Regions from separate parts of the Homo sapiens genome. Here regions 2, 3 and 4 are each linked to region 1. Evidence: fine-mapped expression QTL. A gene starts in region 1. Each other region holds a variant in brackets. All regions are shown on one strand. Distances are between the middles of the regions. Region 1 holds the start of SLC25A30 (solute carrier family 25 member 30). Region 2 overlaps SLC25A30 (solute carrier family 25 member 30). Region 3 overlaps TPT1-AS1 (TPT1 antisense RNA 1). Region 4 overlaps COG3 (component of oligomeric golgi complex 3).

The links. PIP is the estimated chance that this variant, and not a neighbour inherited with it, causes the effect. A credible set is the group of variants that fine-mapping cannot tell apart.
Region 2: its variant is the best candidate, but not a certain one, in a credible set for the expression of SLC25A30 in whole blood (INTERVAL, PIP 0.52).
Region 3: its variant is the best candidate, but not a certain one, in a credible set for the expression of SLC25A30 in tibial nerve (GTEx, PIP 0.56).
Region 4: its variant is the best candidate, but not a certain one, in a credible set for the expression of SLC25A30 in monocytes after LPS (Fairfax 2014, PIP 0.79).

What each region holds. Positions count from the first base shown.
Region 1 is chr13:45,416,866-45,419,486 of GRCh38, reverse strand. SLC25A30 (solute carrier family 25 member 30) reads left to right here and starts at 1,114. Exons shown (of 10, transcript NM_001010875.4): 1 at 1,114-1,187. It overlaps SLC25A30-AS1 (SLC25A30 antisense RNA 1), which reads right to left and starts at 1,325. Exons shown (of 2, transcript NR_047031.1): 1 at 749-1,325. RefSeq lists enhancers at 710-899, 1,710-1,759 and silencers at 1,010-1,109, 1,150-1,479.
Region 2 is chr13:45,395,711-45,398,470 of GRCh38, reverse strand. It overlaps SLC25A30 (solute carrier family 25 member 30), which reads left to right. Exons shown (of 10, transcript NM_001010875.4): 9 at 1,133-1,213; 10 at 2,456-2,760. The coding sequence ends at 2,497. Among named protein-coding and RNA genes, the nearest start is that of SLC25A30-AS1, 21 kb to the left of the region's middle. The variant C/T (reference allele first, on the strand shown) is at 1,486.
Region 3 is chr13:45,381,891-45,384,650 of GRCh38, reverse strand. TPT1-AS1 (TPT1 antisense RNA 1) reads right to left here. Exons shown (of 11, transcript NR_024458.1): 9 at 1,416-1,560. Among named protein-coding and RNA genes, the nearest start is that of SLC25A30-AS1, 35 kb to the left of the region's middle. The variant G/C (reference allele first, on the strand shown) is at 1,498.
Region 4 is chr13:45,475,970-45,478,469 of GRCh38, reverse strand. It overlaps COG3 (component of oligomeric golgi complex 3), which reads right to left. Exons shown (of 23, transcript NM_031431.4): 2 at 2,123-2,269. Among named protein-coding and RNA genes, the nearest start is that of COG3, 12 kb to the right of the region's middle. The variant G/A (reference allele first, on the strand shown) is at 1,249.

The sequences.
Region 1 (2,621 bases):
ATTAGCCGGACGTGGTGATGGGCACCTGTAATCCCAGCTACTCGGGAGGCTGAGGCAGCAGAATCACTTGAACCTGGGAGGCGGAGGTTGCAGTGAGCTGAGATGGTGCCATTGCACTCCAGCCTGGGCAACAAGAGTGAGGCTCTGTCTAAAAACAAAACAAAACAAAAATATACCTGGGTATGCTTGAACACAAACACTGCCATACCGTTAAAAATGTTATATATTAATATATAAATAAATATTTACATATATGTATATTAGATATATATGTAAAGATTTCTACTCATAGTACGGTTCTTTTAATTTTTTGTTCTGTTTGGACATTTTCTTTCTTTTTTTTTTTTTTTTTTTTTAAGAGGGAGTATCACTTTGTCGCCCAGGCTGGAGTGCAGTGGCGCGATCTTGGCTCACTGCAACCTCCGCCTCCCGGGTTCAAGCGATTCTCCTGTTTCAGCCTCCCGAGTGGCTGGGATTACAGGCACCCGCCACCAGGTCTGGCTTTTTTTTTTTTTTTTTTTTTTTTTTTTTTTTTTTTTTTTTTTTGAGACGAAGTCTCGCTTTGTTGCCCAGGCTGGAGTGCAGTGGTACGCTCTCTGCTCACTGCAATCTCCGCCTCCCAGGTTCAAGCGATTCTTCTGCCTCAGCCACCCAAGTAGCTGGGATTATAGCGCCCGCCGCTATGCCCGGCTAATCTGTATATTTTCAAGCTAAAAGCTGGGGTATAAAAAAATAAGGGCAAGTTTACTTCCATCCAACTGTGAAGGTTCACGGGGGCACCGTGAGAAGGTTGCCCCCTGCGAAGGTTGCTTTTCCACGGTTCTCGATGCGTTCCCCAAATTTCTCTTCCACCTCCCAGTCGATATCGGAGGCCACATCAGGTGTCACCGAGTCCCGGGCAGCTCCCTCAGGCAGCGGCAGGGGAAGATCCTGAGGGGCACTTGGGACGGGCCCCGCCCCTCCGTGTCCCCATCTGGGGCTGTCAGGGGTGTGGCTAGTGCTGGCAGAAACCAATGGGAGCTGAGGAGGTCGCGTGTTTGCGCGGACGGGGCGGGGCGGCGCGGGGCTGCGTGCAGGCTCGTGGGTCTGCCCCGCCCGCGACGGCATTTTTTCCTTTTCTCCAGCGGCCTCAGGTTCTTGTTACAACTGAGTCCGGGTTGGAGGAGGTGTGGGGCCGCTGCCGCCAGGTAAGTCCTGGCCCGTGCCTCCTCCTGCCGGCCCCGCTTTCTCTGCGGCTCCTGGAACCCGGGCCTGGGGTAAGGTTGGGCTGCGATTTCCGAGGAGCCTCCTTTGCAACCGGGCGTGCTCGGGGCTGCCTGTGCTCTCCACTTCGCAGGCCGGGCCGGGCTCGGCGGGGCGCGAGGTTCCGGGGACTGGGGACAGGGCTCTGCTTCTCGGGCTGCTGCCTCCTTGGGTCGGGCCGGTGCCGCGGGGCCCCCATCGCTGTTGGCGTGGGGTGATTCCTGTTCCAGGGTCATTCAGATCCGAGTGCGAAGCCCGTCCTGGCATCTCCGCGTCTGCTAACGAGCCCCGGGCTTGCAACCCTGCTTGTGCGTCCCTCCCACTCGTGCGTTCATTCAAACGGCAGCCTGAGCGCCCGCGAGCTTCGCACTGTGGGAGAGGGCACACCACATTCGGAATCGCTCGTGGCACACAGGCTGGGAGGAACTTGCCTGGAAAGTTAATGTACCTCTGGGTTTTGAAGTCTTTCTAGGTGCACTTTCATGTAAAGCAGTTGCAGTGATTAGCATTTTTGTTCTGCGCAAGAGTAGCAAACAATGTTGGCACTGCCCTGCGGATTCGGCTTGCGGTGCTACTTGGGTAGTGAGAAAGTTGAAAGGCATGAATCTTGCTTTTGGCTTTGCCGTTGCGAAGCTTTGTGACCGCGGGCTCAGTTAATTAACGTGAAACGAGATGATAATTTCGAAGATTTCTTTTAAACCCGGCTTTTTGTAAGTCTGTGATGAGCTTAGTTTTCCTTCTGCACCTTTAAAAAGAATAGGAAATAGGAAAAGTTCATGAAAGGGCATTATTGAAAGGGCAGTCGGTCCAGCAAGGAACAATAAATGTATGAGAGCACATTAAAGGCTGTGCAATTACAGTTTTAAGACTTAAGACTAAAAAGGGAACAGGAAGTAAAACTGAAAGAACTTACCAAGAATTAAATAAGAGAAACGGCTGGGAGCGGTGGCTCAGGCCTGTAATCCCAGCACTTTGGGAGGCCGAGGCGGGCGGATCACCTGAGGTCAGGAGTTCGAGACCAGCCTGGCCAACATGGAGAAACTCCGTCTCTACTAAAAATACAAAATTAGCCGGGCGTGGTGACGGATGTCTAATTCTAGCTACTCGGGAGGTTGAGACAGGAGAATCGCTTGAATCCAGGAGACGGAGGTTGCAGTGAGCCGAGATCATGCTATTGTACTCCAGCCTGGGCAATAAGAACAAAACTCCGCCTCTAAATAAATAAATAAGAGAAACTTGGAAAGCGTTCAAAAGTACGAACAGCTAGTATTATATTTAATTACCTCCCTTTACAGCTGTACACATGAGGTCAGGTGGGTGAAAATAAATACTAAGCAACCATGTAAGAGAAAATGTAGACAGGATGTGTAACTTAGCAT
Region 2 (2,760 bases), 21 kb after region 1:
TATTTATTTTCAAGTTTTAATGTATTTTAGATTCAGGGGGTACATGTGCAGGTGTGTTACATAGGCACATGCGTAGTGGTGGAGATTGGGCTTCTAATGTACCCATTACCCAAATAGTGAGCATTACACCAGACAGATAATTTTTCAACTCTAGCCTCTCCCCTTTAGGAGTCCCCAGTGTCTGTTACTTCTATCTTTATGTCCGTGTGTACCCATTGTTTAGCTCCCACTTAAAAATGAGAACATGTGGTTTTTGATCTTCTGTTTCTGCGTTAGTTTGCTCAGGATAATGGCCTCCAGCTCCATCCATGTTGCTGCAAAGAACGTGATTTCTTTTTTATGGCTACAGGGGCCACTTTTGTGGTTCCTGTTTTCCAACATGACACTAGCACATTTTATTCTTCAGGTGTTGCCTTAATGAAGCAAAGACACTTATCGTATTCATCCACCTGACATCTTGGGAAATAGTGGTACTCTGAATGATATCTCTACCACTATTGCTTCTTTATTTGTGACCTGTTCAGGAGCCCACATGGCACGGAAGCAACAGACCGTAATTGGAATTAAATCTAATTTTTTCCTCACTCAACAGTGTTTATCTCCTTTGTGTGGAGTTCATTCAATCCTTCGTGTGGGGTTGTTGGGCATGGAGCCTTAGTCTTCCACCCACACAAGCCTCTAAAGAGCAAAGATTTCTTAGGCAGTCCTTCCAAACAGGATTTTATTTTTAAGAAAAATAAATCAGTCTGGCCACTAATTATTATTATTATTTTTTGAGATGGAGTCTCGCTTTGTCGCCCAGGCTGGAGTGCAGTGGCGTGATCTTGGCTCACTGCAAGCTCCGCCTCCCGGGTTCATGCCATTCTCCTGCCTCAGCCTCCCGAGTAGCTGGGACTACAGGCGCCTGCCACCATGCCCGGCTAATTTTTTTTTTGTATTTTTAGTAGAGACAGGGTTTCACTGCATTAGCCAGGATGGTCTTGATCTCCTGACCTGGTGATCCACCCGCCTCGGCCTCCCAAAGTGCTGGGATTAAAGGCGTGAGCCACCGCGCCTGGCCTGGCCACTAATTATTAATGCATTTGGCATAATTAGAAAGTTGGAAGTTAACTTTTTTTTCTTCTTTTAACAGACATGGAAGAATGAAGGGTTTTTTGCTCTCTATAAAGGCTTTTGGCCAAATTGGTTGAGACTTGGTCCTTGGAATATCATTGTATCCTTTTCTGTTGCAATAGATCTGAAAAAAGATACAGCTAAAGAATACTATTTGTATAAACTCTCATGTTATTAATTATAATTTAGAAGTAGGTTCTGATTATTTTGAGTTCCTCTGATGCTAAGAAGTCACTACTTAGTTTCTTTTTTAGGAAGTGTAAAGTCTCCGTGCTAGACACTGAATCTTGCTTTGATGGTGGTATTATTCAAAAGTAGTGATACTACTAAAAAGGTTTAGTTAGACTCTGTTCTAGAAGCTGAGGGTATTTA[C/T]GATTTCAGAGAGAGAGAGAGGAGGATTGGCTTTATAGCCCTAGCCACCTTGGGAAGGATGTGGTTGGCAACAGTGTCTTAGAATGCTTATCTTAGAAAGTGCCTGAAGATAAACAGGAATTAGCTCCGGAATTGTTTGGCAGGCCAGCACGCTTCCTATGTGCCACAGTGGGAGGCAGGAAAGGAAAGGCAGTTAACTTTTTTTTTGTTTTTGAGACTGAGTCTTTACTCTGTCGCCCAGGCTGGAGTACAGTGGCGTGATCTCGGGTCACTGCCACCTCCGCCTCCTGGGTTCTAGCAATTCTCTTGCCTTGGCCTCCTGAGTAGTTGGGATTACAGGCACATAAAACCACGCCTGGCTAATTTTTGTGTTTTTAGTAGAGATGGGGTTTCACCATGTCAGCCAGGCTGGTCTCAAACTCCTGACCTCAAGTGACCTGCCCCTTGGCCTCCCAAAGTGCTGGGATTACAGGCGTGAGCCACCGCGCCCGTGAGGCAGTTAATTAGACACTGAAGGGCAGAGTGATGAAGCAGGAATGCTGGCTTTTGCTGTCCTCTTGTTGCTCTTCATCAGCTCCTGCCTCCCAAGGAAGGATGCATAGTGGAAGCCTTTGAGGAGAGCTTCCCAGGGCTTGCTAACTCTCTCTCTCTCTCTCTCTCTCAAAAGCTTACAGTGCTGGAAAGTTTTTCCACCACAGCAAAGCCACAAAAGCTTATCAGCGTAGATGCCATCTCAGAAGAGGCTGATACCAGGGGATTTACATATCTCAGCTGTGATCTTTCTGCTCCAAGCTGACCTTGGAAGATAGTTTGATGTGGTTAAGGGTGGAACCCCTTTTATTTAATCGTGTCCATAGCGTGGGTCTGCCTGTACCTATTTGTTATTAAGTGTGCCATTTGTAAGTCTGTTGTTATGCACTGGAGTTGTGAAGATGGCATTTTCTGTGTCATCCTTAACCCATAACCACAGTTCTTTGTGACATACGAGCAGTTGAAGAAATTGGATTTGTGACAAGCCAAGGCTGCATGAGACATCTTTCTGAAAATGGTAACTTCTGAAACAGCAAAGCTTCCTGTGTTTCACTCTGCTTCTCACTGCTTGGCTCATCACAGATTCTGGGATGTGAGCAACAGATGAAGACTGGGTTAGTTGAGATTGCTGTGTGTTGGCATTGGATGCTCTTCATCAAACGTTTAATGGCATAAACTAACATCCAAACACTAGTCTTTACCACTGAAGTGCCCTTCAACATCAAAGATAATATGTGAAATGCA
Region 3 (2,760 bases), 35 kb after region 1:
TCAGGTCTATGGCAACTCTCCTGTTCTGTCATAAGCAAGGCTTCAGGGGTCTTGATAATCACAACATCCCATAAAATGCAGAACTAGTCCATTATATGGATAATATGTTGAGCATGTGACATTTCTAGGAGTTCAGTGGCCTGAGGCATGTTGGTTATCTCCTTCAAATGAAAACAAATTGCTGCATCATGTACTCCTATGCTAGGAAAGAGTTAAAAAAAAATACTTGACGGGTGTTTTAGGAGGTAATATACAGCACATTTTACCATGCTGCCCTGGCCCATTTACGAAGGAATTTGTAAGTCTGCCGGTTTTGAGTGGGGCCCAGAGCAAGAGAAGGGTTGCAGCAAATTCAGACTGTTGTGCAAGATGTTCTGTCATATATGGCACATATGCCTGAAGTGTCCAAGGCAGATAGAGATACTGTATGGAGCCTTCAACCAGCCCTGAAAGGAGAATCACAGTGCAGACCCCTGGCGGTTTGCAGCAAATCCATGTTATCTTTTGCAAATAACTTTTCTCTCTTTGAAAAATAGCTCTTCTTACTGGGTCCTAGCTAAAAACTGGACATTTGATTTTGGGACCTGATCATGAACTGGGTGTGCACCCCTCTTCCCCCTCTGGCTCTTAGGACCACCATCGCAGGAGGGGGAGGCACCCCCCACGAGGCAGGGACTGAGAGCCAGCCCCTCATCACCCCCTGGCTTAGGACCCCCATTGCGGATCCTAAGAACCTTAGGACCCATCTGGAGGACTGTGGGTATTAGGTGTCCAAGAAAAAAGCTCAAATCTGCCGACGGCAGCTACCTTACTTCGGATTTACTCTCCGACAGGGGTCCGAACGCAGCCCGGGAACAGAAAGAAAGCAGGTCATTTGCAATCTACCGGAGCCTAAGGGCAGAAGGCAGGTGAGGGAATTCTTAGGGGCTGTGGGGTTTTGTAGACTGTGCATCCCAAACTTTGCAGTATTAGCCAAGCCTTTGTATGAGGTCACAAAGGGGACGGGGACCGGGAACCTTTGGAATGGGGATCCCAACAACAGCAAGTCTTTCATGAGTTAAAGGAAAAACTTCTGGCAGCCCCAGCCCTGGGGCTACCCGATCTGACAAAGCCTTTTCCATTGAATGCGTCAGATAGAGAAAAGATGGCAGCTGGACTTTTAACCGAAACTCTGGGGCCCTGGATGAGGCCGGTGGCCTACGTCTCTAAACAACTAGAGAGGGTTTCTAAAGGATGGCCCCTCATGTTTGAGGGCCGTGGCATCAACTGCCCTGATAGTACAAGAAGCAAATAAGCTGACTCTTGGGCAAAACCTGAACATAAAGGCCGCCCATTTTGGGTTGGATGACAGCCAACCCCTCTTCCCCCCCTGCCTTAGGACCCCCATCGCGGATCCTAAGATCCTTAGGACCCACCTGGAGGACTGTGGGTATTAGGTCTCCAAGAAGAAAGCTCCAATCTGCCGACGGCAGGTACCTTACTTGGGAGTTACTATCC[G/C]ACAGGGGTCCGAACGCAGCCCGGGAACAGAAAGAAAGCAGGTCATTTGCAATCTACCGGAGCCTAAGGGCAGAAGGCAGGTGAGGGAATTCTCAGGGGCTGTGGGGTTTTATAGACTGTGCATCCCAAACTTTGCAGTGTTAGCCAAGCCTTTGTATGAGGTCACAAAGGGGGCGGGGACCGGGAACCTTTGGAATGGGGATCCCAAGAACAGAAAGTCTTTCAGGAGTTAAAGGAAAAACTTCTGGCAGCCCCAGCCCTGGGGCTACCCGATCTGGCAAAGGCTTTTCCATTGTATGCGTTAGAGAGAGAAAAGATGGCAGCTGGACTTTTAACCCAAACTGTGGGGCCCTGGCTGAGGCCGGTGGCCTACGTCTCTGAACAACTAGACAGGGTTTCTGAAGGATGGCTCCCCTGTTTGAGGGCCTTGGCAGCAACTGCCCTGCTAGTACAAGAAGCAAATAAGCTGACTCTTGGGCAAAACCTGAACATAAAGGCTCCCCATTTTGTGGTGGCTGAGAGTCAGCCCCTTTTCCCCCGCTGGCTCTTGGGACCCCCATCGCAGGGGCGATGACACCCTCTGCGAGGCACGGACTGAGAGCCAGCCTCTCTTCCGCCCCAGGCTCTTAGGACCCCCATCGCAGGGGGGGAGGCAACCCCCGCGAGGCGGAGACTCAGAGCCAGCCCCTCTTCCCCCTCTGGCTCTTAGGACCACCATCGCAGGAGGGGGAGGCACCCCCCACGAGGCAGGGACTCAGAGGCAGCCCCTCTTCCGCCCCCGGCTCTTAGGACCCCCATCGCAGAGGGGGAGGCACCCCCCACGAGGCGGGGACTGAGAGCCAGCCCCACTTCCCCCTCTGGCTCTTAGGACACCCATCGCAGGGGGGGAGACACCCCCAACGAGGCAGGGACTGAGAGCCAGCCCCTCTTCCCCCCTGGCTCTCAGGGCCCCCATCACAGGGGGGGAGGCACCCCCCGCGAGGCGGGGACTGAGAGCCAGCCCCTCATCCCCCCCGGCTCTCAGGACCCCCATCGCAGGGGAGGGAGGCACCCCCCACGAGGCAGGGACTGAGAGCCAGCCCCTCTTCCCCCTCTGGCTCTTAGGACCACCATCGCAGGAGGGGGAGGCACCCCCCACGAGGCAGGGACTCAGAGGCAGCCCCTGTTCCGCCCCCGGCTCTTAGGACCCCCATCGCAGCGGGGGAGGCACCCCCCACGAGGCGGGGACTGAGAGCCAGCCCCTCTTCTCCCCCTGGCTCTTAG
Region 4 (2,500 bases), 59 kb before region 1:
CGGTGGCTCACGCCTGTAATCTCAGCACTTTCGGAGGCCGAGGCGAGCGGATCACAAGGTCAGGAGATAGAGACCATCCTGGCTAACACGGTGAAACCCCGTCTCTACTAAAAATACAAAAAATAAGCCGGGCGCCTGTAGTCCCAGTTACTCAAGAGGCTGAGGCGGGAGAATGGCATGAACCCGGGAGGCAGAGCTTGCAGTGAGCCGAGATCACGCCACTGCACTCCAGTTTGGGTGACAGAGCGAGACTCCGTCTCAAAAAAAAAAAAAGGCCATTTCAGATGTCTTAAGGATTGAAAAAAACAAACAAAAAACTGACCATTTTCACAGTCAAATTAAGGAAGAGTATTAAACATACAATAGGTAAAAAATGAATATTTCTTCCTAACAGGCTAATGCCTACTTGCTATAATCGTTTACAAAATTTGAGTAGGTAACATAGTGCTTTGGGCAAATATCAATATTAACGTTATCTAATAAGAACTGTGAGGCTATAACTCAAAAATAATATTACAGAGTGGTTTAAGAATATGGACTGTGGGGCCGGGAATGGTAGCTCACGCCTGTAATCCTAGCACTTTGGGAGGGCAAGGCAGGCAGATCACGAGGTCAGGAGATTGAGATCATCCTGGCTAACAAGGTGAAACTCCACCTCCACTAAAAATACAAAAAATTAGCCTGGCGTGGTGGTGGCCGCCTGTAGTCCCAGCTACTCAGGAGGCTGAGACAGGAGAATGGCGTGAACCCAGGAGGTGGAGCTTGCAGTGAGCCAAGATTGCCCACTGCACTGCAGCCTGGGCAACAGAGTGAGACTCCATCTCAAAAAAAAAAAAAAGAGAATATGGACTCTGGTATCAGCTAGCCCTGGATCTGAATTCTGGCCTGAAAAATATCTATTATTTAAAAGGGGGATGCGGGGAGTTGACCTTAAACAAGTATGAAGAAACTTTTGGGGTGATGATAGAAATGTTTTATATCTCAATTATAGTTGTTAGTTACATACATAGGTATATACACTTTTCAAAACTCATTGAGCTGACACTTAAAATGAATACATTTTATTGTACATAAATTATAAGTCAGCATATTAGTTTTTTTAATTTTAAAGAGAGAACAGGTACGAGTTTCATCCAGAGGACTTTTTTTAAGCAGGCCAAACAAGTTCACAGATGTGGTGCAAGACTACCTTCAAGTGAACCTGAGAACACTGAATCTCAAGTAAGATTCAATGTCAAGGGTATACAG[G/A]CTTGCCATGTACCTTGGCTATCATTTGCTGAGCATTTACTGTGTACTTGCTACACAACGAATTTACATGCATTATCGTATTTAACGCTCACAAAAATCCTGTGAAATAATATATAATTATCCCTGTTTTATATATTAGGAAACTAAAGATCTAAGAAGCTAAGTAATTTGCTTAAGCTCACAAAGATGCTAAATGATGGAGCTGACTTTCAGGTGCAGGTCAGCCTAGCTCAGGAACTGTAATTCTTCATCGGTTTGTAGAACTGCCTCTCTCAACTTACTATATATGTAATCCAGTTCCAACACATGTACTTTATGTTTTATTTGGTCAATGCCTCAACTTTGACTCTTAATAGGAAAAGAAAGAGGAGACAAGGAAAGTGGCAGAAGAAACTACTGTAAGTTTAGGTTTCTAATTAGGAATGAACAAAAACCAAGAAAAAATTACACATGCTAAATTACTGAAAAATAACTACAAATGTTAATATAAAAAGAATATTTGGGTTTTTTAAAAAAGGACTACCTAGCAACAAGTGAGATGGAGGGGTACCCATGCACACACTGAGGGAACAGGTTAACAGAAGACAGACATTGGGGGAAGTCAAAAGTGCATAAGACATTAAAACCTCAATAATCTATCAACGTCCAAACATGGAATCTCATGTTTTTTTACCTATATCATAACTATAATTGGGCAATAGATTCATTTAAAACACGTAAACAGCCACAACTAATGCAAAATCAAGAATGTTCTAGAAAGACTTAATGTTAATTATGGTGACAAATGTTCAGAACTTTTAATTAGGACTTTATTAGCCTTGTCTTCAGACATCTGAAATAATCAAACATCCTTAGAAAAGATACTGCAATTCACCTGCTGTGCGGTTTCAATTCTTTCTTCTTCCATTCCTAAGGAAGTGAAGCCCTTCAAGAGAATGTCTTCTGTAGATTCAGGCACTACTGAAGTCAGTTCAATGGGCAGTGACTGGGATGTTAAACTGCACAAGTCTTCAATTGGAAGCTTGAAAAAAGAGAGTCACAAAGATATTTAAGTGACTTGAAAATTCTCTGAACTTAACTCAAGATTGGGTTTCCATCTCAGTTGTTTTGAAAGAGAAAGAAATATTTTCCATTAAATCACATTAAGTTAATAAATACTATATAGTACTAACATTTTAGGCTCTATATTAAATGCTCATCTCAAAATATAAACATGACACTGATGTCCCACCATTAGTAAGCTTTTTTTTTT